Homo sapiens: one gene and its partners. The protein of the gene in region 1 purifies or fractionates together with the protein of each later gene. This does not show direct contact. Each region holds a gene or a part of one and is shown in the gene's direction. Other genes may lie near its edges. The genes, in order: SLC15A2, SCFD1, DHCR7, EPHX1, ATL3, ALG1 and NAALAD2.

Evidence for each region.
Region 2: the proteins of SLC15A2 (region 1) and SCFD1 purify together in Homo sapiens (affinity purification with mass spectrometry; one large-scale study listed by BioGRID and IntAct). This does not show direct contact.
Region 3: the proteins of SLC15A2 (region 1) and DHCR7 purify together in Homo sapiens (affinity purification with mass spectrometry; one large-scale study listed by BioGRID and IntAct). This does not show direct contact.
Region 4: the proteins of SLC15A2 (region 1) and EPHX1 purify together in Homo sapiens (affinity purification with mass spectrometry; one large-scale study listed by BioGRID and IntAct). This does not show direct contact.
Region 5: the proteins of SLC15A2 (region 1) and ATL3 purify together in Homo sapiens (affinity purification with mass spectrometry; one large-scale study listed by BioGRID and IntAct). This does not show direct contact.
Region 6: the proteins of SLC15A2 (region 1) and ALG1 purify together in Homo sapiens (affinity purification with mass spectrometry; one large-scale study listed by BioGRID and IntAct). This does not show direct contact.
Region 7: the proteins of SLC15A2 (region 1) and NAALAD2 purify together in Homo sapiens (affinity purification with mass spectrometry; one large-scale study listed by BioGRID and IntAct). This does not show direct contact.

The regions. Positions count from the first base shown.
Region 1 is NC_000003.12:121,925,401-121,928,900, forward strand, and holds part of SLC15A2 (solute carrier family 15 member 2), read left to right. Parts: intron 1-2,357; coding exon 2,358-2,439; intron 2,440-3,020; coding exon 3,021-3,155; intron 3,156-3,500. UniProt on the Homo sapiens protein: Proton-coupled amino-acid transporter that transports oligopeptides of 2 to 4 amino acids with a preference for dipeptides. Transports neutral and anionic dipeptides with a proton to peptide stoichiometry of 2:1 or 3:1.
Region 2 is NC_000014.9:30,625,319-30,628,818, forward strand, and holds part of SCFD1 (sec1 family domain-containing protein 1), read left to right. Parts: intron 1-2,890; coding exon 2,891-2,961; intron 2,962-3,500. UniProt on the Homo sapiens protein: Plays a role in SNARE-pin assembly and Golgi-to-ER retrograde transport via its interaction with COG4. Involved in vesicular transport between the endoplasmic reticulum and the Golgi.
Region 3 is NC_000011.10:71,438,394-71,441,893, reverse strand, and holds part of DHCR7 (7-dehydrocholesterol reductase), read left to right. Parts: intron 1-453; coding exon 454-667; intron 668-1,057; coding exon of another isoform or gene 1,058-1,108; intron 1,109-2,810; coding exon 2,811-3,015; intron 3,016-3,500. UniProt on the Homo sapiens protein: Oxidoreductase that catalyzes the last step of the cholesterol synthesis pathway, which transforms cholesta-5,7-dien-3beta-ol (7-dehydrocholesterol,7-DHC) into cholesterol by reducing the C7-C8 double bond of its sterol core.
Region 4 is NC_000001.11:225,830,624-225,834,123, forward strand, and holds part of EPHX1 (epoxide hydrolase 1), read left to right. Parts: intron 1-1,155; coding exon 1,156-1,336; intron 1,337-3,500. UniProt on the Homo sapiens protein: Biotransformation enzyme that catalyzes the hydrolysis of arene and aliphatic epoxides to less reactive and more water soluble dihydrodiols by the trans addition of water.
Region 5 is NC_000011.10:63,654,377-63,657,876, reverse strand, and holds part of ATL3 (atlastin-3), read left to right. Parts: intron 1-3,500. UniProt on the Homo sapiens protein: Atlastin-3 (ATL3) is a membrane-anchored GTPase that mediates the GTP-dependent fusion of endoplasmic reticulum (ER) membranes, maintaining the continuous ER network. It facilitates the formation of three-way junctions where ER tubules intersect.
Region 6 is NC_000016.10:5,070,488-5,074,642, forward strand, and holds the start of ALG1 (chitobiosyldiphosphodolichol beta-mannosyltransferase), read left to right. Parts: upstream 1-1,355; 5' UTR 1,356-1,362; coding exon 1,363-1,570; intron 1,571-1,760; exon of another isoform or gene 1,761-1,816; intron 1,817-2,463; coding exon 2,464-2,541; intron 2,542-2,665; coding exon 2,666-2,769; intron 2,770-4,155. UniProt on the Homo sapiens protein: Mannosyltransferase that operates in the biosynthetic pathway of dolichol-linked oligosaccharides, the glycan precursors employed in protein asparagine (N)-glycosylation.
Region 7 is NC_000011.10:90,176,163-90,179,662, forward strand, and holds part of NAALAD2 (N-acetylated-alpha-linked acidic dipeptidase 2), read left to right. Parts: intron 1-1,690; coding exon 1,691-1,955; intron 1,956-3,500.

The DNA.
Region 1 (3,500 bases):
TCTCCTGTTGTCCCTACAAAACAAATGGGGAACCTAGTAGGACTGGGGACTGAATTATTCCCAATTACTGCCTGAAATTTTTTCTAAATAGAAGGACTAGTCTTTTTTAGAGTTTGGCAAAAGAAAGTTTCAAGCCTTCTTTCATTCTTGATTTAATAGCAATTTCATTGTGATGACCACTTTACCAGATGAAAATGGCCCTTTGTCATTTGTTCATTGAGCAAATGTTGGGAAGTTTAGGACCAAGTGTCATGAAAATATAAATCAAGCAAAAAAAAAAACAACATTTCCCTCAAACAGTTTATTACTTAGTAAAGGGGCTAGACTATATATATATATATATATATATATATATATATATATATATATATATATATATATAAAATACAACTACTACACAGGTAAAATAAGTGTCCTAAGAAGGGAAGATCAAGTGCCAAGGAGAGGTAGAAAAGAAAAAGTCCCTCCCCTGCCAAAGCCAACAGATTTCTGCAGAGGAATGTGAGGTAAAGCATGTACAGCACTTGGCATATGGCATTTGTTCAATAAACCTGATTGTATTGCCATTATTTTTGGTGTTATGACATAGCGAATAGAAAAACCATCATAAGCAAAGATGGAGGTGGGTAAATGTGGTGTATCACAGAGAAGAGCAGTTCAATGTGACTCAAGAACAAGAAGAAAGAAGAATGTATGAAGGGGAGTTCTAGGAAATCCCTTGAAAAGTAATTGGTCATGGAAACATGGATTTAAAAAAGGAAAGTAATTGGGATCAAATCAGGAAAAGTCTTTGATGCAGTTTGAATATTTGTACCCACTCAAATCTCATGTTGAAATGTAATCCCCAATGTTGGATGTTGGAGGTGGGGTCTGGTGGGAGGTAGTCGGATCATGGGGATGAATTCCTCATAAATGGTTTAGTGCTATCCCGTTGGTGCTGTCCTTATGATAGTGAGTTCTAGTGGGATCTGACCATTTAAAAGCATGTAGTATCTCCCTACCCTTCACTTGCTCCTGCTTTCACCATGTGACATGTCTGTTTCTCCAGAGGGTACAAGCCATAAACCTTGGTGGCTTCTACATGGTGTTAAGCCTGCAGGCATACAGAGTGCAAGAATGAAGAATGCTTGGCACCCTTCACCTAGATTTCAGAGGCTGTATGAGAAAGTGTGGGTGTTCATGCAGAAACCGGCTGCAGGGGTGGAGCCCCCAGAGAGTACCTCTACTAGGGCAGTGTGGAGGTAAAATGTGGGGTTGGAGCTCCCACACAGAGTCCCCACAAGGACACTGCCTAGTGCAGCTGTGAGAAGGGGGCCACCATCCTCCAGACCCCAGAATGATAGACCCACTGGCAGCTTGCACCCTGGGCCTGGAAAACCACGGGCACTCAACAACCTGTGAGAGCAGCCACAGGGGCTGAACTCTGCAAAGCCACAAGGGTGGAGCTATCCAAGTCCTTGGGAGCCCACCCCTTGTATTGGTGTGCCCTGAATGTGGGACATGGAGTCAAAGGAGATTATTCTGGAACTTTAAGATTTAATAACTGCCCTGCTGTGTTTCAGACTTGCCTGGGGCCTGTAGCCCATTTGTTTTGGCCAGTTTCTCCCTTTTGGAATGGGAATGTTTACCCAGTATCTATACCCCCATTTTATTTGGGGAGTCAATAAGTTGTTTTGATTTTATAGGCTCATGGGTGGAAGGGACTTGCCTTATTTCAAATGAGACTTTGGACTTGGAACTTTTGATTGAGTTTGTGCTGGAATGAGTTAAAATTTGGGGAACTATTGGGAAGATATAATTGTATTTTGCAATGTGAGAAGGACATGAGATTTTTGGGGGGCTAGAGATGGAATGATATGGTTTGAATATTTGTCCCTGCCAAAATCTCATGTTGAAATGTAATTCCCAGTGATAAAGGTGGGGCCTGGTGGGACATGACTGGATCATGGGAGTGAATTCTCATGAAGGGTTTAGCACCATTCTGTGGTGCTATCTTCATGATAGTGAATGAGTTCTCACAAGATCTGGTCATTTAAAAGTGTGTGGCACCTCCCATCTCCTCGCTTGCTTCTGCTTTCACCATGTGACATGCCTATTCCACCTTTGGCTTCTCCCATGATTGAAAGCTCCTCGATGCTTCACCAGAAGCTGGAAGATGCCAGCACTGTGCTTCCTGTAAAGCTACAGAACCATAAGCCAATTAAACTTCTTTTCTTTATAAATTACCCAGTCTCAGGTATTTCTTTACAGCAATGCAAGAACAGTCTAATGCAGTCTTTAATAATAGGCTACAGAGTTTGGATTTCATCCTTTAGAGTCTAAAGTTTAGATATAATTGTTTCTCCTTTCCACCACAGATCACTTAGGAAAATGGCTGTTGGTATGATCCTAGCATGCCTGGCATTTGCAGTTGCGGCAGCTGTAGAGATAAAAATAAATGTGAGTTCAGTAATTCTTAAGCTCTATGAGGGCAGGATCATATCTTTCTTATTTGCTCTTTTGACTTGTTCAGTCATGATTCCCTGGGACCTAGCACAGTACCTGTTTTATAAGAGGTGCATCATAAGTATTTGTGATAAATAAGTAGATACAGGGGTAAAACAGCAATGCAAAATGAGGCCCACCTCCCACCTGAGTGACTCAGAATGTATTTTCAGGGAATTCTCAAACACTAATATCCAAGAGAGCCCTCTCCTTAGGGAACACAGGCTTATGTGATGCCTTTCTACATACTCAAGTAAAAACCTTTTGGCAGATTGAATAGCCACTATTACGGATGAGGCCACAGCTGAGTCAAAAAGCATCGAGTTTGTAAGCTGGCATTGGTACTTGCTACAATGAGCTGATGTTTCCCTCTCCAAGCTGCCTTTAGAGTTTTCTAAGCCAAATATTTTTCAGAGGGAGAAAACTATGTCTACTTGGCTAGTGGACTAGGCTGTCAGAAACAACTGAGATATGTGTTGCCATTGTATCTGAAGGATTATTTGTTGGTGATTCTGACATGTGTTCTTTGCTCTAAGGAAATGGCCCCAGCCCAGCCAGGTCCCCAGGAGGTTTTCCTACAAGTCTTGAATCTGGCAGATGATGAGGTGAAGGTGACAGTGGTGGGAAATGAAAACAATTCTCTGTTGATAGAGTCCATCAAATCCTTTCAGGTGAGGTGTGTACCTGAATGAATTAGAAACTCTGTATGCTATATTGATCTTGATTTTTCCTTAACATTAATTGTATCATAAGCATCTTCCCATGTCTTTAGATAATCTTTGAGCACATGATTTTAATGGGCATATAATATTCCATTCTATAGATATACCATAGTTTATTTAGACATTTCCACATAGGTATTCCGTTTTTATTATTATACATAATCCTACAATGAACATTCTTATTCATAAATATTTATGCATGGCTCTGATTATTTCTTAGGGTAAATTCCAAGAAATAAAATGGCTAGGTTAAAGAAAGGAATTACTAGGTTGAAAGTGTCTGATGAGGTCACC
Region 2 (3,500 bases), on another chromosome or scaffold:
TGTTTTTGATTTTGGAATATTTGCATTATTACTGGTTGAGCATCCCAAATTTCAAAATCCGAGCACCAGCTTAAAAAATTTTGATTTTGGAGCATTTCAGGTTTCAGATATTAAGACTTGGGATGCTCAACCTGTAGTATATTTAGAGCCAATAAGAAAAATGGTTTGTCATTTCAGATAAAGTCATGGTTTAAGCCTTGGGTAAACTCTGATAAAAGTAAAATTACGTTCTTGTAAACTCTGAACACAGGCCGTGTACTCCATTAACAAATCCTTTTTGTTATAGGTATAGGTATACCTATATAGGTATAGGTATATAGGCATATAGGTATACCTATATAGGTATAGGTATATAGGCATATAGGTATACCTATATAGGTATAGGTATATAGGTATATAGGTATATAGGTATATCAATAGGTATATTGATATAGGTAAAAGGTATATCAAAATACCTTTTAATAAGTTAGCCAAGGCTCAAAGTTGGAGAAAATCTCAGACTGGGCTGAGAAGGCGAATGTAGGATTATCTTATTTGCTGCTGCTGGCCTCTTTCAGTTAGCTAAGGCCTAACTGTGCAGCATACTAAACACCTGAGGCTCACATGGCAGCTCAGGCTTTCGTTCTTCCAAGTTGTCAGGCTTCAAGAGTGTGAACAGCTGTTCCCAGAAACAGGGTTTCCTCCCTCTTGGGCGTGAGTGCCAGGGTGGTGGTGTCTTTATTGCCTGGAGGTGGAGGAAGAGCTCTGCAAATGCACAGTGGGAGAGTTAATCCTGAAACCCCCTCCGTGCTTCCTGTGTTATTTCAGTTTTAAGTGTTAAACTGTTTTTTTGTTTATATTAAATATATTTAATATTATAAATACATTAAATAAAATACATTTTTATTTAATGTAAAACCTGTGGGCCTCTGAAGTAGGTAATATTGGTAATGTGTATTTTTGGCTGGACATTAGGTAATAACATTTTACCAAAAATTATGTCTGTAGGTGTATGGTAAATACACCTGATAGCAATAACTTAAGCGTGCCCTGAGAATGACCCTGTATTGCAGACACACCTGGATATGTGTTTCAAGCTAGGGAATCAAAATGGCCCACCTGGAGATTCATTCCTTGTCTGTGAGGAACATCTGAGCCCCCAGCCCATCCAGTGAAACATAGGCCATGCAGTGGATCAAGGCCCCGAGTTTTGGGTTGAATGAAGGTTGCCAGGTGGAGGTTGTTAGGGAAATGTTAAGTGAAAATGCTGTATAAACCACATTTTTGCTATATAAACCACTTTTTGCATGCAGTTATGGTTCTCCTGCCCAGCGCATTGCCACTGAGTATACAGTTCTCCTGTCCAGCCCACTGTCACTGGACTCTCCTATGTGTGTTGCCCCCATTAAAACCCTGTGTCTCATTTCCTGGCTCCGGGTCTCTTCTTAGGCCTCTCAAACATGGGTATCTTCCCCACTGGAGGCAATAAGGGTTCGGCACAACAGTATGTACACACACATAAGTATGCAAATGTATCACTGAAGTACAATCTGTTCAGTAATAGCAGTTTTAACAGCATTATACCTACCTCAGCAAGCAAGCATTTAATAGAAGTTTTTCTTGTGAGTGAATGAATATGCTGTAAGTTGATATTCAGGTGATTTTAGTATTACATAGTTCTCTCGTAGGACTTTGGAGTATAGGTTATTCTGTATTACTTAAAGCCTGATGCAAATGTTTTTAACAATCAACCAAGTGGATTTTAAGGCTGTCAATTTTATAAAAATTAAATCAAGAAATTACAACTAGTATACTCTCTTGAATATTTGGCCATCTCAGTTTCACGAAGAAGTATATTAAGGGATTTTCATTTTCTGTAACACTGTTACAGATGAGTGATAAATAACACAAAATACTGTAACAGACCCGTAACTGTGATTTTTGATGTTGTATATTTGCTTAGCTGGAATTATCAGTTATCTACTATATGGGAAAGTCTGTTTTCCCAAGGGACATAGAATTTTAAGCAACTTTTCGGTGAATCTGACAGGATAAATTGTTTGTAAAATATACTCTTACATAACTATAGACAGATCTGTATGAAGGTTTTGTATATGAACCAATTGAATATGCCATGGATAATTTTGTTTTTAGAAAGACTGATCCAGGCCGGGCGTGGTGGCTCACGCCTGTAATCCCAGCACTTTGGGAGGCCAAGGCGGGTGGATCACCTGAGGTCGGGAGTTCTAGACCAGCCTGACCAACACGGAGAAACCTCATCTCTACTAGAAATACAAAATTAGCCGGGCATGGCAGCGCATGCCTGTAATCCCAGCTACTCGGGAGGCTGAAGCAGAACTGCTTGAACCTGGGAGGCAGAGGTTGTGGTGAGCCGAGATCACGCCATTGCACTCCAGCCTGGGCAACAAGAGCGAAACTCTGTCTCAGAAAAAAAAAAAAAAAAAAAAAAGAAAGACTGATCTTTCTCACTAGGCCACTCACACTTAAAAAAAAAAACAGACAGACAGACTGATCCTTCTCACTAGACCACTCAGACTTAAAAAAAAAAAAAAAAAAGACTTACCTTAATCTATGCTTTCAGCCAGACAGTACACAGGCAACAGCATCAGTATATTGAGGCCATTGCAAGTTCTTCCTGAACATTTCCCGCGATTTCATCTGTGGACAGATGCTTATTGTGTTTTGGGAAATCTCCCAAATACATGTCAATTAGCTGTCGATGGAATAGTCTTACAAGATCTGACCCCTAGTTCTACACATATAGTCATTTGGTTAATCAGTTTTACTAGAGTTGATTAGTTTATTTTGCTTTGGGGTAGTGAATGATGATGGAGGAAAAATAAAATCCTAAAAAACAATGACAATATTTGATAAAACTTTTTATTTTCAGTGGCTTTGAAGCGTATGTTGAATTTCAATGTGCCTCATATTAAAAACAGCACAGGAGAACCAGTATGGAAGGTAAGAGTTTATCTTAATGGGAACTGATTTCTGTTTTTCTCAGCCCTTATTGGTGGTAATTGGAGGGAATTTATTGTAATATGGAAGAAGTAACACATATTAGTTATCATGAATGTTTTATCCTTATTTAACATGATCTCTTAATATGAATTGTTTTGACAGACATTCTATGGAGTGAGACAAGTGATAAAATAGTAATTTTCATCTAGGGAGTCCAGTTGATCTCTTTGGTAGGATGTCACTGATAGGTCTTTTTCCTGGTTGATATTTTGTTCCTTAGCTTTTCAAGTCCAGACTTTGGATTTTATAAGCTTGCTCGGAGTTAGTCACATTCAGAGGGCCTGGATTATTTTAACAAACTCATGAGAAAATGATCTGTAAACTGTAATACCACTTTAATAATTTATGAGATATAAAACTTAATTGAACCAGAAAGCAATCTACAATCTTTTCCTTTGAGAAATACTGGAGAGCCTTTAAAAATTCCAATTCTTTAGGCTTCTTCATTTTAAACTTCATGCAGACTCTCTTTCTTCAGA
Region 3 (3,500 bases), on another chromosome or scaffold:
GAGCCTGGCTTTGTGCCTCTCACGTGGGTGCAGACTGGAACCGCATCCCAACTCTGCCCCCAGAAGCTCCCTGTTTTGAGGGGTGGATGGGCTGAGGTGCTCCCCAACAATTACAGAGGGGGCCAGGCATACCACAGGGGCATCCTCACTTGCTTCTGCCCCTCAGCCCTGACCTCCCTATCAGACTGCACACCTGTCACTCAGCCTATGGCCAGTTAACGAGATGCAGAACCAAAGGATGGACTCAGCCTCCCCTCCCTCTTCCTAGGAGCAGGTAGTTCCTTGGCCAAGGGTATAGGGGCCTCAGAGATGGTTCCTGGGGCCCCAGATGAGGGTCCGCAGCAGCAGAGGCCCAGAAAGTGACCAGGGCCCCCGCCAGGCATGCTTCAGCCCAGCCAAGCTCCTCACTGCGGGTTGGGAAAGCGCCTTCATTTCTGAATCCTTCATCTGCAGGGGTTGTGAACAAGTATCAGATCAATGGCCTGCAAGCCTGGCTCCTCACGCACCTGCTCTGGTTTGCAAACGCTCATCTCCTGTCCTGGTTCTCGCCCACCATCATCTTCGACAACTGGATCCCACTGCTGTGGTGCGCCAACATCCTTGGCTATGCCGTCTCCACCTTCGCCATGGTCAAGGGCTACTTCTTCCCCACCAGCGCCAGAGACTGGTATGTTCTTAGCAGCGGGTCCAGCCTGATGTAGAAAGTGCAAACTTCACCCCTGGCCTTTCTTGCTGCCTGGGGCAGGTGGTTGTAAAGCCCTGAGCACTGAGAATCCGTGGAAGAGGAGGAGGGGGATGGAACTTGCTTCACCCTGGGGAACATCCTTTCTGAATGTTTGGTGGCTTCTCCAGCCTTGGCAAGAATGCAGCTGAAGATGGCCAGGTCAGCTGTGGTGGCCAAGTCATTGCCTTTAGGGCTGGCGTGGGGGTAAGGAAGCCAGGAAAAACTTCTGGCTTGGGGCACAGGCAGCCCATTGCCTCTTTCTTTGGATAAGCTGGTGAGGCCCAAAACAACCTTAGTGAAGAGTCTTATTGTCCCTGTGGCTTTAATTAACAGCTTCCCAGGAGAGCCCTGCTGGCTTGTACCCATTCCCATGGCTGGACAGTGGTGAGCCACTCATCTCTGTCCACTCATCCATTCACCTGCCCATCTCCCCACCCACCCATCCACCCCCCTACCCATTCATCTACCTACTCACCCATCATCCACCTACCCATTGCCCCATCCCATTCACCCACCCACCAATGCATCATCCATCCACCTATCCATCACCCACATCCACCCACCCATCATCCATCCATCTACCCTCCCATCACCCATTCATCCATCTGCCCATCCACCTACCCACCCACCTACACATCTAGCCACACACCCATCCACCTGCCCATCTCCCCATCCTTCCACCTACCCACCCACCCATCCATCATCCATCTCATCCACCTGCCCATCCACCCTCCACCCCGTCTGTCTACCCACCCGTCATCTATTTGTCCATCCACCTATCCACCTACCCACCCACCTACACATCTAGCCACCCACCCATCCACCTGCCCGTCATCCATCCATTTACCCATCCATCCACTCTATCAGGGCCTGTAATGGCATGTGCCGAGGGGAAGGAATGCATCATCTCATCCAGGTCAACCTCCTGCCTGAGCAATGTCCGCAGCTCCTGACCGGCCTCCCTTACCCTCTCAGGCCCTCCTAGCCTGCTCCCTCTGGCTTCCTGGGTGACACTTCTGAACACACCTGATCCCTGCCACCCTGCACCCCAGCTCAACCCTGCCTATCATATATCCATCCACCTGCTCCTCTCCCCATCCCATTCATCCATCCTTCCACCCACTCACCCTGTTATCTATCCATCCATCCATCATAAACCAATGTTTGGGGGGTTCTCTTGTGGACAGTTGTAGGCAGTGGGACTTACAGTTCAGTTTGGGGGATCCAAAAAACCCCAGTGTGGTTTACACCTAGGCTCTTGGGAAATGTTTCTGGAGGATGACACTTTGTAGCTTGTGTGTTATCAGATAACGAGGCTGGCCTTCAATGGCTCCTGGAAATCATCCTCGCTACCTTATAATCATGTAGACTTTGTGTGTTTTGCTTCTTTCTACTTACCCTACCTGAGGGAACTGGACATGAAAATAGGATTTTCTAGTTAACACAGAAATTGTTGTGTGTCCTCAGCCAGCTAGACCTAGTCAGGGTCTCCACAGGGGTTATCTCGGCTGATGCTCTGGCCCTCCGGGGATTGGGGGATTCAGGTAACTGGTCAAAGAACTTGTCCTGCACATGCTGGAAGCCGGGCCCAGGGTGCGTTTGTCATTCTCTACGTTGGCGTGATTTATAATGTCACTCACCCATGAGGGCCCACGTGCCCTGCGTCGGCTTCAAACCGTGTGCTTGGGCCCCAGAACGTAATCTCAGTGCAATCAAGCCAGTTCTTCAGCTCACCTGTGCCATGCGTCAAGGGCATCTGGAGAAGGGTAGAGAGAAACCCAGGTACCAGCCCAGGGCCGGTCTCCCACCCTTCCCGGGTGCAGAGCAGGTGCCCCTGGGCTTCTGCCTAAGGAAGTCTCTGCTGAGCAGCAGCTGAATGCAAAGCAAAGTGAATGAGGGCGCCAGGAACCAGCCGACAAGCATTCCAGCCGTGGGGGTCCCAGCGGCTCATGGCCAGCTTCTGCCTGCGCCGTCTCACGTTACCCTTTAGGACCCTGGGCCAGTGCTGGGCTCTCGCTAAGTAAGGTGGCTTCATCTTGTGAGATATGCTCATCCACTAAATGTATCTTTTATTTATATTTTTAAGCAAATTCACAGGCAATTTCTTTTACAACTACATGATGGGCATCGAGTTTAACCCTCGGATCGGGAAGTGGTTTGACTTCAAGCTGTTCTTCAATGGGCGCCCCGGGATCGTCGCCTGGACCCTCATCAACCTGTCCTTCGCAGCGAAGCAGCGGGAGCTCCACAGCCATGTGACCAATGCCATGGTCCTGGTCAACGTCCTGCAGGTGCCTGTCATGGCTGGAGAGGGTGAAACGCCGATGCCGGCAGGCTCTGGGGGAACCCGCAAGCCAGAGCGTATTCCCATGACCTTAATCTACTGCTTGTAAAAGAGAGTCAGCTGCCCTCCCCAGGTGTCACCAGGAAGCAGCCGGCGAGCACTTGGTGAAGGAAGCCATCCTTGGGTGCCTGTCTCTGCCAGCCCTGGGAGGGGAGGAGGCAGGTTCTACGCAGCCAGGCGTGGTCCAGGAAGGTCTCCCTTGGGGATTACACCTGGGTAGAATCTGGGGGTGTGTGGGAGTTAACCTGGTAGAGTGGAGGCAAGAGTGCATGCTCCAGGAACCCCCTGTAGGGAGAGAGGGTGGCAAGTCTGGGACACTCAGAAACATCCCGCATCCTGACCAGAGAGCGTTCAGGAGCTCAGAGCCAGGTGAGGCTGGAGGCCTCATGGAAGTCTTCCTCTTTATCTTAAAAGCAGCAAGACCCAGAAAGT
Region 4 (3,500 bases), on another chromosome or scaffold:
CTGGCTAATTTTTGTATTTTTAGTAGAGATGGGGTTTCGCCATGTTGGCCAGGCTGGTCTCGAACTCCTGACTTCAAGTGATCCACCTGCCTTGGCCTCCCAAAGCACTGGGATTACAGGCGTGAACCACCGTGCTGGGCCTGGCCTGTAATTTTTATCCCAACTCAGTTATAATGTATCATTCAATGTTGTATATCAGGGGTCAGGAAACCAGGCCCATAGACCAAATGTAGCCTGCTACCTGTTTTAGCACAGCGCCCATGCCAAGAATAGTGTTTACCTCTTTAAATAGTTAGGGGGAAAAAAATCAAAAGAAGAATAATAGTTTGTGACGTGAAAATTATATAGCAGTCAGATTTCAGTGTCCATAAATTTTTATTGGAACACAGCCACCCCCATTCATCTGTGCATTGGCTATGGCTGTCCATAAATAAAGTTTTATTGGAACACAGCCACCCCCATTCATCTGTGCATTGGCTGTGGCTGCTTTCACACTATGAAGACAGTGGAGTCACTGCAGCCTGCAAAGCCTAGAATATTTACTATCTGGCCCTTTACAGAAAAAGTTTGCCGACTCCCGCTGTAGAGACGCCTGGGTAAATTAAAGATGAGTATCGTGTATACACTTAAAGAGTAAAAGATGAGCTGGGCGCAGTGGCTTACACCTGTAATCCCACCACTTTGGGAGGCCAAGGCAGACAGATCACTTGAAGCCAGGAGTTCAAGACCAGCCTGGCCAACATGGCAAAACCCCGTCTCTACTAAAAATGCAAAAATTAGCCGGACATGGTGGCTCACACCTGTAATCCCAGCTACTCTGGGAGCTGAGGCATGACTGGCTTGAACCTGGGAGGTGGGGGTTGCAGTGGGCCGAGATCACGCCACTGCCCTCCAGCCTGGGCAACAGAGTGAGACCCTATCTCAAAAAAAAAAAAAGAAAAAAGAAAAAAGAAATGCGAAGTCTACAGTGAAGAAGGAAGAAGTGAAGAACACATCCGCTTTGGGAGTAGCCAGTGATGTGGGAAACTGCCTTGCCACTCCCAGAGGGCAGTATCTTGTGGCTGCAGGGTTTGCTGTGTTTTCTGGAAACAGACTTTGCTCTTGTGCTCTGTCCTTCCCATCCCTCTCAACTTGGGGTCCTGAATTTTGCTCCAGGACTTACACCAGAGGATCGATAAGTTCCGTTTCACCCCACCTTTGGAGGACAGCTGCTTCCACTATGGCTTCAACTCCAACTACCTGAAGAAAGTCATCTCCTACTGGCGGAATGAATTTGACTGGAAGAAGCAGGTGGAGATTCTCAACAGATACCCTCACTTCAAGACTAAGATTGAAGGTATGTTTGCAAAACGCCAGCCAGAGAGGGATGTATGTCATGAGAACAGCCTTCTTCCACAATGTGACTTACAGTCAGATAAAGTTGGAGAGATTCAGAACCCAATTATAGGTGACTGAGATGTACTTATACGTTGTAACCTTACTAAATGCAAAAATATTGCAGTCACAACAAATCTGTCCATCTTTAGAGCTAGGCAGGAACACATACATGCAATTTAAAAACCAAAGAAATGCACCATCCAGTCCAATGATGTGGCAATCTTTGAGAGGAAGGATGGAGATGAGATTTAGACCCAGGCCAAGTGGGGTGGCTCAGAACTGTAATCCCAGCACTTTGGGAGGCTGAGGTGGGTAGATCACGAGGTCAAGAGTTCAAGCAGCCTGGCCAAGATGGTGAAATCCCATCTCTACTAGAAATACAAAAAATAGCCAGGTGTGTTGGCAGGCAGCTGTAATCCCAGCTACTCTGGAGGCTGAAGCAGAGAATTGCTTGAAGCCAGGAGGCGGAGGTTGCAGTGAGCCAAGATCGCGCCACTGCACTCCAGCCTGGGCTCCATCTCAAAGAAAGAAAAGACTCTGCTCTCAGTTCTTTTGGATCTATACTCAGAAGTGGACTTGTTGGATCATACGGTAATTCTGCGTTTAATTTTCTGAGGAACCGCCATACTGCGTTCCGCAGCAGCTGCACCATTTTACTTTCCCACCCAACAATGCCTCAGAATCCCGATTCTCCAAATCCTTGCCAATATTTTTTTCCTTTCTTTTTTTCGGTAATGGTCATCCTAATGGGTATGAAATGGTATCACATTGTGGTTTTGAGTTGCATTTTCCTAATGATTACTGATGTTGAGCATTTTTTATGCGGTACTTATTGGATTCTTTGTAATTTCTCCGAAGAAATGTCTGTTCATGTCTTTTGTCCATTTTTTGGGTGTTTTATTAGGGTTTAGGAGTTCTCTATATATTCTGAATAAAATCTCTTATATTTGCAAATGTTTTCTCCCACTCTGTGGGTTGCCATACAATTAATCTTTTTCAGAGACAAGGTCTTGCTGTGTTGCTCAGGCTGGAGTGCAGCGGCTATTCACAGGCGTGATCATGGCTCACCACAGCCTCGAACTCCTGGGCTCAAGCAATCCTCTCGCCTCAGACCTCCTGAATAGCTGGTACTATAGGCGAGCACCACTGTGCCCAGCTTGTTAATTTTTTATATTGAAGAAATTGTACATGTTAGGAATCTTATTTTTAATGTTTTAAGATAATTTGGCCTTTTCAAGGAACAGTGAAGATTTTAATTTGTTAAAATTCTAGGAATTACTTAAAGTGTATGAAAGACATGTTGGTCAGTCAGATAAACTAAAGTTCCTAAAAAAAGGAAATTGAAATTATAGTGTTAACTGGGTGTGGTGGCATGCACCTGTAGTCCCAGCTACTCAGGAGGCTGAGGCAGGAGGATTGCTTGAGCCCAGGAATTCAAGGCTGCAGTGAGCTACAAGGACACCACTGCACTGGGTGACAGATCAAGACCCCATCTCTTAAAAAAAGAGAGAGAGGCTGGGCACGGTGGCGCACGCCTGTAATCCCAGCACTTTGGGAGGCTGAGGCAGGTGGATCACGAGGTCAGGAGGTTGAGACCATCGTAGCTAACACGGTGAAATCCTGTCTCTAATAAAAATACAAAAAATTAGCCAGGTGTGGTGGCGGGTGCCTGTAGTCCCAGCTACTCGGGAGGATGAGGCAGGAGAATGGCGTGAACCCAGGAGATGGAGCTTGTGGTGAGCTGAGATCACACCACTGCACTCCAGCCTGGGCGACAGAATGAGACTCTGTCTTTAAAAAAAAAAAAAAAAAACAGGCTGGGCGCCGTGGCTCACGCCTGTAATCCCAGCACTTTGGGAGGTCAAGGCGGGCAGATCACAAGGTCAGGAGATCGAGACCATCCTGGTCTAACTTGGTGAAACCCCGTCTCTACTAAAAATACAAAAAATTAGCCGGGCGTGGTGGCAGGCGCCTGTGGTCCCAGCTACTTGGGAGGCTGAGGCAGAAGAATAGCGTGAACCCGGAAGGCGGAGCTTGCAGTGAGCCCAGATTGCGCCACTGCACTCCAGCCTGGGTGACAGGGCAAGACTCTGTCTCAAAAAAAAAAAAAAGAAAAAAAAAAA
Region 5 (3,500 bases), on another chromosome or scaffold:
TCAAAAAAAAAAAAAAAAAGCCAATGGCATTTTTAGTTTCATATTGTGTTTTCCACTGGTATATACCTGTTGATTTGTTTGTGTCTTTTATGAACTGTTATTTTCTGAAATTTTTTTTCAATAAAAGGAAGGAAGATGTGAAAACAACTTTTTATCAAAGTGAATGATTTAAAATTAATACATATTGATTGTTTTTAAGATTCTTAAATAAAATGCATGAATATAGTTTAAAAGGTCAGGTACTACTGTAAGGCTTCTAACAGAAAGCAGCTGTCATGTGTGTTATTCTCCTCTCTACCCAGTTTTCACTTCCCAGAGGCTGATGCTCTTATGTGTTACCACTTCTGTTCTTTACTTCCTTACTCCTGTATGGGTGGCACAGACCTGGCTGTTGTTCTGGGAGTTGAGCAGGGAAATGGCATTGGGGATCTCACTGTTCAGAAGGTGGGCATTCACTATCCCCTAGCTATCAGTAGGGCTTCTTAGCCCCAGTCTCATCTATGCCTTGTAAGCTATGGGCATAGAGCCTCTCCACAGATTTCTTTGTAAGGATCGGGAGGGGTAAGTCATGTGTTTCTTATACAGACTTTCATCCATTACTTCTGTTTTTAGCCCAATCCTATAAGCATGCCTTCACACCTGTTTGTCCTTTTTTTTTTTTTTTTTTTGAGATGTAGTCTCACTCTGTTGCCCAGGCTGGAGTGCAGTGGCACCATCTTGGTCACTACAGTCTCCGCCTCCCAGGTTCAAGCAATTCTCCTGCCTCAGCCTCCTCATTAGCTGGGAGTACAGGTGCACACCACCATGCCTGGATAATTTTTGTATTTTTAGTAGAGACAGGGTTTCACAATGTTGGCCAGGCTGGTCTGGAACTCCTGACCTCGTGATCCGCCTGTCTCAGCCTCCCAAAGTGCTGGGATTACAGGGGTGAGCCACCACACCTGGCCACCTTTGATATTTTGAAGTGCTGGAGTGTTGGTACTGAATTCTTTTAGCTTTCATACATCTGAAAAATCTTTATTTTGCCTTTGTTTTGGAAAATATTTACTCTTAGTGTAGAGTTCTAGGCCAACGTATTTTTCTCAGTACTTCAAAGGTGTTGCCCCTTTGCCTTTTTGCTGACATTGTTTCTTTTTTTTTTTTTTGAGAGGGAGTCTCTCTGTTGCTCAGGCTGGAGTGCAGTGGTGCGATCTCGGCTCACTTCAACCTCTGCCTCCCGGGTTCAAGCAATTCTCCTGTCTCAGCCTTCTGAGTAGCTGGGACTACAGGCGCGCACCACCACGCCTGGCTAATTTTTGTATTTTTAGTAGAGACGGGGTTTCGCCATATTGGTCAGGCTGGTCTTGCACTCCTGACCTCAGGTTATTCACCTGCCTCTGTTTCCCAAAGTGCTGGGATTACAAGCATGAGCCACTGTGCCCAGTCTGCTGACATTGTTTCTGACAAGAAATACACTGTTATTCTTATTTTTGTTCTTTTGTACCTAATCTGTCTTTTTTGTCTGGTTGCTTTTTTCTTTAAATTAAAAAAAATTTTATTTTCGTGGGTACATAGGTATATATATTTATAGGGTATGTCTGGTTGCTTTTAAGATTTTATCACTGTTTTTGAGCAAATTATTATGTGTTTTGATGTAGTTCTTTTTTTTTTTTTGAGACGGAGTCTCACTGTGTCGCCCAGGCTGGAGTGCAGTGGCGTGATCTCGGCTCACTGCAAGCTCCGCCTCCCGGGTTCACGCCATTCTCCTGCCTCAGCCTCCCAAGGAGCTGGGACTACAGGCGCCTACCACCACGCCCGGCTAAGTTTTTGTATTTTTAGTAGAGACGGGGTTTCACTGTGTTAGCCAGGATGGTCTCGATCTCCTGACCTCGTGATCTGCCCGCCTTGGCCTCCCAAAGTGCTGGGATTATAGGCGTGAGCCACTGCGCCAGGCTGATGTAGTTCATGTTATTTGTATGTGGGTTTTGTTGAGCTTCTTGAATCTGCAGATTTATAATGTTTATCAAATTTGGACATTTTAAGGTTATTATTTCTTCAAGTTTTTTTGGTCTGTTACTCCCTTTGGAGACTCCTATTACATGTGCCTCTTGCTGCTTGAAGTTGTTCCACAAGATGTTCATTTAAAATTCTTTGGCCGGCGCGGTGGCGCACGTCTGTAATCTCACACTTTGGGAGGCCGAGGTGGGTGGATCACCTGAAGTCAGGAGTTTGAGACTAGCCTGACCAACATGGTGAAAACCCATCTCTACTAAATACAAAAAATTAGCTGGGTGTGATGGGTCATGCCTGTAATCCCAGCTACTTGGGAGGCTGAGGTGGGAGAATCGCTGGAACCCGGGAGGTGGAGGTTGCAGTGAGCCGAGATCGCACCATTGCACTTCCGCCTGGGCAACAAGAGCTAAACTCCATCTAAAAAAAAAAAAAAAGGCCAGATGCGGTGGCTCACGCCTGTATTCCCAGCACTTTGGGAGGCTGGGGTGGGCGGATCACCTGAGGTCAGGAGTTCGAGACCAGCCTGGCCAACATGGTGATGCCCTGTTGCTACTAAAAATACAAACATTAGCTGGGCGTGGTGGCGCCCACCTGTAATCTCAGCTACTTGGGAGGCAGAGGCAGGAGAATTGCTGGAACCTGGGCGGCGGAGATTGCAGTGGGATTAGGAAGAGTACTCAGTCTTGCCTCAGTAATGAGGAATAACAACACTCTGGTTCCATTTAACAAATCTAAACAGCAAGAACAGAAAAAACCAGAGTTTCCAAATTACTTAACTACATCTCAGAATAAAGCTAGATATTTTATAGGAATGCAAAAATAACCAGCACCCAACAAGGGAAAATCCACAAGTCTACATCCTATCAAAAATTTGCAGACATAAAAGAAGCAGAAAAATATAACCCAAATGAGGAGAAAAATCAATCAAAACTGTCTCAGAACTAACACAGATATTAAAATTAACAGAAAACAACTTTTTTTTTTTTTTTTAGACAGTCTTGCTCAACTAAAAATACAAAAATTAGCCGGGTATGGTGGTGTGCACCTGTAATCCCAGCTACTCAGGAGGCTGAGGCAGGAGAATCGCTTGAACCTGGGAGGTGGAGGTTGTGGTGAGCCGAGGTTGCGCCATTGCACTCCAGCCTGGGTGACGAGCAAAACTCTGTCTCAAAAAAAAAAAAAAAATAGGCCAGACATGGTGGCTTAGGCCTGTAATCCCAGCACTTTGGGAGGCCGAGGTGGGTGGATCATCTGAGGTCAGGAGTTCAAGACGAGTCTGACCAACGTGGTGAAACCCTGTCTCTACTAAAAATACAAAAATTAGCCGGGCATGGTGGCTCATGCCTGTAATCCCAGCTACTCGGGAGGCTGAGGCAGGAGAATCGCTTGGACCTGGGAGGTGGAGGTTGCAGTGAGCCAAGATCGTGCCATTGTACTCCAACCTGGGCAACAGAGTGAAACTCCGTAATCCCAGCACTGTGGGAGGCTGAGGCGGGCGGATCATGAGG
Region 6 (4,155 bases), on another chromosome or scaffold:
TGGCTTAAGGCGTGAGCTGTCCCTTCTGAATCCATAGAAAGGGAGTGATGGGGCAATTGTGAAAAGCAGATGCAAAGTGTGCCAAGCCCTGAGCTGAGCCCAGGGACACTGGGGAGCCACATCCATGTGGGCTACCCTGTCCCGTGGGTGCTGCCTGTGGTCCTCATCAGGGGAGGAGTCTTGTTTGTTTGTTGAATACGGTCTGGGTGGTGGCTCTCCAGGTTCTGCGGCAGCTCCCAAGTGGAGGCAATGGGGTAGCATCACCAGTGAGCTCTTGGTGTTTCTCTGCAAGGGACCGCTTTCAAAGAAAAAAGGTCATGATACGGTTTGGCTGTGTCCCCACCCAAATCTCATCTTGAATTCCCATGTGTTGTGTGGAAGGGACCCAGTGGGAGGTAACTGAATCATGGGGTCAGGTGTTTCCCGTGCCGTTCTCGTGATAGTGAATAAGCCTCACGAGACCTGATTGTTTTATAAAAAGGAGTTTTCCTGCAGAAGCTCTCTTTTTGCCTGCTGCCATCTATGTAAGAGGTGACTTGCTCCTCCTTGCCTTCTGCCATGATGGTGAGGCCTTCCCAGCCATGTGGACCTGTAAGTCCATGAAACCTCTTTCTTATGTAAAGTGCTCAGTCTCGGGTATGTCTTTATCAGCAGCATGAAAACGGACTAATACAGGCCATCGCAGAGACACACATTAAACTCTCACTATGGCTACTTTGGGAGGTGAAATTGGAGGGTCACTGTGGAAATTTCCTTTCTAGCCATTGATACTTAAGCAAAATCATGATGGTGTTTACTTCCTTGTTTGTCCTTCCCCCTCTCTACCTTTTAAATGTTTTATTAAGTGTGATGTACACCCTGGAAAATGGGCAGGTAATCTGCTGCTTGAGGTACCGCCCCAAATGCAGCACACCCACATTACCAGCACCAGATCCAGAAGCAGAACCCACCAGCCCCTAACTTCTAACAGCGAGGACTGGTTTTTATTTACATAGACGGAACTCTACAATTCGTACTCGTCAGCATCTGGCTCCTTTATCAATGTTAGGATGAAATTTATCCAAATTCTTGTGTCACTATATTTTGAAATTATCTTTGAATCCTGAAGAGAGTTCTTAGATCCCAATACAGTAACAGCTTTACTTTAGTCGGGGAAATACACTGGTGTGTAGGGAATCTGGTGTATGTGCGTGTGTCCTACTACTACTAATTCTTGGCCCCGAGGGGCTCCTGGGGGTTCCCCGGGCCCCTGTTAGGGAACCGCGTCCACTTCTCGCCCTCTCGGCCCACTTCGGAGGCTCGGTCTGCGGCTGCGCACAGCGCGAGGAAGCGCGGTCACGTGACTGCTGCGGGCCAGCCAAGATGGCGGCCTCATGCTTGGTCCTGCTGGCGCTGTGTCTGCTGCTGCCGCTGCTGCTGCTGGGAGGATGGAAGCGCTGGCGCCGGGGGCGGGCGGCCCGGCATGTAGTAGCGGTGGTGCTGGGCGACGTGGGCCGCAGCCCCCGTATGCAGTACCACGCGCTGTCGTTGGCCATGCACGGCTTCTCGGTGACCCTCCTGGGGTTCTGCAGTGAGTGGCCAAGGGTCTGGGAGGGACGATGCTCTCTCAGCCGTTGATCCTCGGTTCTAACCGCCCCGGGGAGTCGAGGCGGAAGTGCTCCTTTAGTCGCCGCCTTTGGGCAGCTCTCCGAGATTAGACGAGCGGTTCTGCCCCAGCCTTTCCTGGGTGGGTCTCTAGGTATAGCCGGCGTTAATCTTGCCACGTGTCAGAAGTGTGTTAAGTGAATCCATTGCGTGGTCTCACGTAATTCTCCTAGTAAGTGGAACCCAGGTGCGTGGAACTCCAGGGCTAGTGCTGGTAGCTACGTCCCTGTGCAGCTACCCTTGTCAGGCTATGTCTGAGCTGACAGGATATTTCATTCCTCATCCCTCAACGCAGAGCTCTGCAGACAGATGTTTTCATTTGTTCTTCATGTCCAGCTTTTCCCCACAGTGTGCAGGGCAGCGGTGTCTGCTCCCTCATTATTCTCCACGTTGGTATCTTGAGAGGGTAGCTCAACCCCATCTCAGGAAGAAGTGGGAACAGCACTAGTTGCCTTTAATCCCTGTTTAGAATCTGCTATCCTAGGGTGATGGGGTAGAGTGGGACTTCCTAGGGATGGCTCTGTGGTGGGAAAATTCCACTATCCAGACAATCTAGATTAGTTTAATTGAGCACCTACTGTTTGCCAGGCATCATGTTAAGTGAAGGTAGGTAAGATTCAGGCCCTATCTCTGTGTGCCTCCTAGAGCAATCTGAACAAGAATTGGCCGCATTCTCTGTTCTGGCTAGTGAGGAGCAGAGAGAGGTTTTGAAATATCTTACTTTCCAAAACACTGTCCGTGATTCAGCCTGAGTTGGGAGATTATCTGACTTTAGATTGCTGCTTCTGGTACATTAAAGGGATCATTCTCATTTTTCAGACTCCAAACCCCATGATGAGCTCTTGCAGAACAACAGAATTCAGATTGTGGGGTTGACAGAACTTCAGAGTCTTGCAGGTAGGATGCCGTCAACTCCAGAATCCTCTGAATCCATGGGCTGGGGGCAGGGGGTGTTCGTTTGAAAAGCCGTGCAGATTGCCAGACGCTCCTTTGGTAGTCACAGGTGTTTTCTGACTTGCAGTTGGGCCCCGAGTTTTCCAGTACGGAGTCAAAGTTGTACTTCAGGCTATGTACTTGCTGTGGAAGTTGATGTGGAGGGAGCCAGGTGCCTATATCTTTCTCCAGGTGTGTATCAGCCTCTGCCTCCCTCTGTGAGAGCCATGTTAGCAGTTTACTTTCCAGCACAAATTGGTACTATATTGCATATTCATATGTGTGTGTGTTGTGTGTATGGGCGTTTAAAGACATGAGTAGGAGCCTATGGTATGTGTCTATTTATGGCACCTATCCATGCTCTCTGTGTCATTACAGATAGTCTTACATTGTACTGACTGTGTATCAAGTGTTTTCCATGTATTAACTCATTTAGTCCTCACAGTTACCCTAAGAAATATTGCATGTAGGTAATACAAGAACCTGTTTCTTAAGGTTGTTCTCATTTAGATGAGAAAACCTAGACTGAGAAAGGCTCTGTAAGTAGCCCATCGCCATACAGCTAGGAAGTGGTGGAATCAGGATTTGAACGTAGGTCGTCAGTGTGGTTCTATAGTATACACACGCACGCATACGCGCGCACACACAAACACACATATATTTTTTTGAGACAGAGTTTCGCTCTTGCCGCCCAGGCTGGAGTGCAGTGGCGTGATCTCGGCTCACTGCAACCTCTGCCTGCCGGGTTCAAGTGATTCTCCTGCCTCAGCCTCCTGAGTAGCTGGGATTACAGGTGCCCGCCACCACGCCCAGCTAATTTTTGTATTTTTAGTAGAAATGGGGTTACGCCATGTTGGCCAGGCTGTTCTCGAACTCCTGACCTCAGGTAATCCGCCCCCCTCGGCGTCCCAAAGTGCTGGGATTACAGGCGTGCGCCACCGCGCCTGGCCTATCGTTATACTTTTAATCCCTTCCCTTGATCACTTTTTCTTTAAAAAATTTTTCTTTCTTTTCTAGCTGAAGGAAGAATACTTTTTTTTTTAAATCAATTTTTAATATATAGAAGCACCTTCCTCTTTTATTTATTTATTTTTATTTTTCCTGAGATGGAGTCTCTGTTGCTCAGGCTGGAGTGCAGTGGTGCGATCTTGGCTCACTGCACCTTCTACCTCCCGTGTTCAAGTGATTTTCCTGCCTCAGCCTCCTGAGTAGCTGGGATTACAGGCATGTGCCACCATGCCTGGCTAATTTTTGTAATTTTTTTTAGTAGAGATGGGGTTTCGCTATGCTGGCCAGGATGGTCTTGAACTCCTGACCTCAGGTGATCCACCTGCCTCGGCCTCCCAGATTGCTGGGATTACAGGCATGAACCATCGTGACCCACACCTTCCTCTTTTAATAGGCAGCCTTGAATTCCAATATGTGATGTACTATACTGCATGTATTTAGTCTCATGTTAATGGATACTCAGATTCTTCCTGATTTTGTTTTTACTTTTACAAATAGTGTGGCTCCAAGCACAGCGAGCATATGCCTTTTGTATAAGTCCAGTTTCTTTCTTAGGGTAACTTCCCAGCA
Region 7 (3,500 bases), on another chromosome or scaffold:
CCTGGGAAGAGTTCCCAGGGATAGAGATAGACTGCATGTCCCTTTCCAGATGGACAAGGAAGCAATTTGAGTAATTTTGTGAAAATTTCATTGTTAGGGTTAATCAAATAAATGGTGATTCACAGAGTAATGCCAGACACTTATCTGGTTAATCAGTACTAAGTAGTTCACATCCTTTTCCTGATTTGTCAGAAAACTCTCATTCTCTAGACTAGTCTTGCAGGCTCTGATGTACTTTTCATGAGGATAAATGCAGTTGGAGAACATATTTTGGTCAAGAGGAGCATTAGGGTAAGATTCATTATTGTCGGTAGCTCCTCTTCATATTGCCACTTCTGCCTGTCACCTGAGTCAAGGGTTCTTGGTTGGGAAATAAAGCAAGTTTCTCTTTTAACTTGATCCCCTTTTCTGTTCTGCACTGACTGGTTTGCACTACTGTCACACAGACATCCTGATGATATGCAGGTACTTGGATATAACCAATATATACCATGTTTGCTCATCAATGTTATAAATTATTTCATAAACCAAATTGAAGATTACAGTAGCAGACACAGATTTGTCATAGATTTTAATCAATCTTCAAATCATAATTACAGTACATCTAAATCTTGCTTGCCCATTATATGTATATCACTTGCAAATTTGACTGTTCAGAATACAACAAAGAACAAAGAAATAAAAGCAACCCCAGAGTAACCCAAAATAGATAAACTCAGAATGCTTACATTCATTACAATTAATACATAAATGATGTGTTTTAACTCTTTGTCAAGGCCTGTTCACTTTTATACTCTGTCTTCTGTAATTTGCTCAAAGTTATCTAGTTTCTAAGACCACTTTAGATTAGAAGCAGATAATTAGATAGAAGGAGAAGGACTGATAAGGAGATTGCTTTTTAGTGATACTAACAGCAGTAAGAACGATAGCCATACAAGGTGGCAAATAATAAAAACTAAAATTAGAAAAGGCAGACCGAAGAACTAAAAAGAATATTTATACGGGATACTACTATGTAATAATTCATATTCATAATGGTACCTTAATTATGTAATAAAGCTTAAATGACATTTAGATATACACTGTTTGAGAAGGAAGGGAAGTTACTTAAATAAATCATCCTTAAGCTGTGTACTTAGCTGCCCAGAACCTTTTTTTTTTTTTTACCAATCAATTGATAGATAACTTTGAACTATGCTGAGGTGCAATTTGAATATGTATTCCCTAATTTTAGTTATCGAAGATACAAGGAGAAAATGTTCAAGGTGTAGCATCTTGAATGAAGGTTACATAAATTATAAAACAAATAATGAGAAAATTTTTAAAACCAGTGAATATTTGGCTATAGTGTTTTCGTTATTAGCGTTTTGCCTCCTTGTGGTAAAACTCAGGGTGTTATATGGTTGTATTTTTTCTTTTTCTTGTTTTTTTTTTTTTTTTTTTTTTTTTTTTTTTTTTTTTTGTATTTTTAGTAGAGACAGGGTTTCTCCATGTTGCCCAGGCTGGTCTTGAACTCCTGAGCTCAGGCAATCCACCTGCCTTGGCTTCCCAAAGTGCTAGGATTACAGATGTGAGCCACCATGACTGGCTGGTTGTTATTTTTTCTATAGTTATTTTTATGCTTACATAAAAATATTATAACTTGAATATTTAATGTTTATTTATACTTGCCTCTCCATTTTTTTTTCAGAAAACAGATAAGTACAGCAGCTACCCAGTGTACCACACAATTTATGAGACATTTGAATTGGTAGAGAAATTTTATGACCCCACATTTAAAAAACAACTTTCTGTGGCTCAATTACGAGGAGCACTGGTATATGAGCTTGTGGATTCTAAAATCATTCCTTTTAATATTCAAGACTATGCAGAAGCTTTGAAAAACTATGCAGCAAGTATCTATAATCTATCTAAGAAACATGATCAACAATTGACAGACCATGGAGTATCATTTGGTAAGAAATAGTTGGGCAGATATTTTACAGTCTTTAAGTTAGAGCTTTAAGATATTATCTCCTATGATGATCAATGCATATTGTTTCATCCTAGAATACATATTTGCCTTACTTATTTTGACTTCTACACAAAAACTTAAAACAAACACCTATTAAAGAATCTGATTTAATCTGGCATGTATAGAATGAATCCATTATGGCTGAGTTATTACCACAAACATTGGGATGGTAAACATTTTTCTTGTATTATGGCCTTTAAAAACATTTTTACTGGCTGGGTGCGGTGGCTCACGCCTGTAATCCCAGCACTTTGGGAGGCTGAGGCGGGCAGATGATGAGGTCAGGAGATCGAGACCATTCTGGCTATTATGGTGAAACCGCGTCTCTACTGAAAATACAAAAAACTAGCTGGGCATGGTGGTGGGCGCCTGTAGTCTCAGCTACTCGGGAGGCTGAGGCAGGAGAATGGCGTGAACCTGGGAGGCAGAGCTTGCAGTGAGCTGAGATCGCGCCACTGCACTCCAGCCTGGGCGACAGAGCAAGGCTCCTTCTCAAAAAAAAAAAAAAATTTACTGTTATAGAAACAATATTAGAAAAATGTAACATTATTTGCAAAAGATTGAGAAAGCCACAAATACTATTACATACGTATTTTTAATTATTGTCAACAAAATGATTATTACTGCATATATCTTTTAGTGTTTGTCTATATGAAACATTTTTTCCATGGTTATAAGTATACTTTCCTTTTATTAATGACTGTTTAGTGGTTGCTCTTCTGCATTGTGCATCTCCTATACAGCAAGGATGACTCATAATGCAGTGTATGTAGTAGCATTGAGGATTGAGTTTGGAAGTGGTTTGCCTGGTTCAGATACTAGCTTTACCAGTTCTTCGTTATGTGACCTTGGGAAAGTTACTTAACTTCTCTATGTGTTAGCTTTCATACAATTAAAAGATAAAAAAGAACATATCATGTTTCAAAGATCATTGTGGAGATTCAGTTTGGTAATATATAGAAGCTGTGGTGGGTAGCACTTAGTGCTCATTAAATATTACCTATTACTGTTTTATTACAAACATTGTCTTTTATTATTCTGGGGGCACCTATTTTTAGTATATACCCAAATTATCAAATATGCCCTGAGTTTCTACTGTGTACCAAGTACTATGTTATTACCTGGGAGATATAAATGTGTACAAGGCATGGTCATAGTCCTAAGAAAGCTTAAAGTCTCATGTGGGGAATAAAGCAATATACAGATAATAGGTTACTATGGGGCTATGTAGAGAGTACTATAAAAACACAGAAAATGGGTATGGAATAGTAATGACTTCTGAATATTATTATATAAAGGATTAGTAATCTTTATATAATATTATATACAGGATTAGTAATAATAGCAAATACTATGGTCTAGAAAAAAAATGAAGCAAATAAAATGTGTTTATATCAATACAATTGGAGTATCTCTGCAGTGATGGGGGAAATAAGGAGAGATAAAACCAGAGAAATAAGCAGAGCCTACAGCAAAATGGACATTG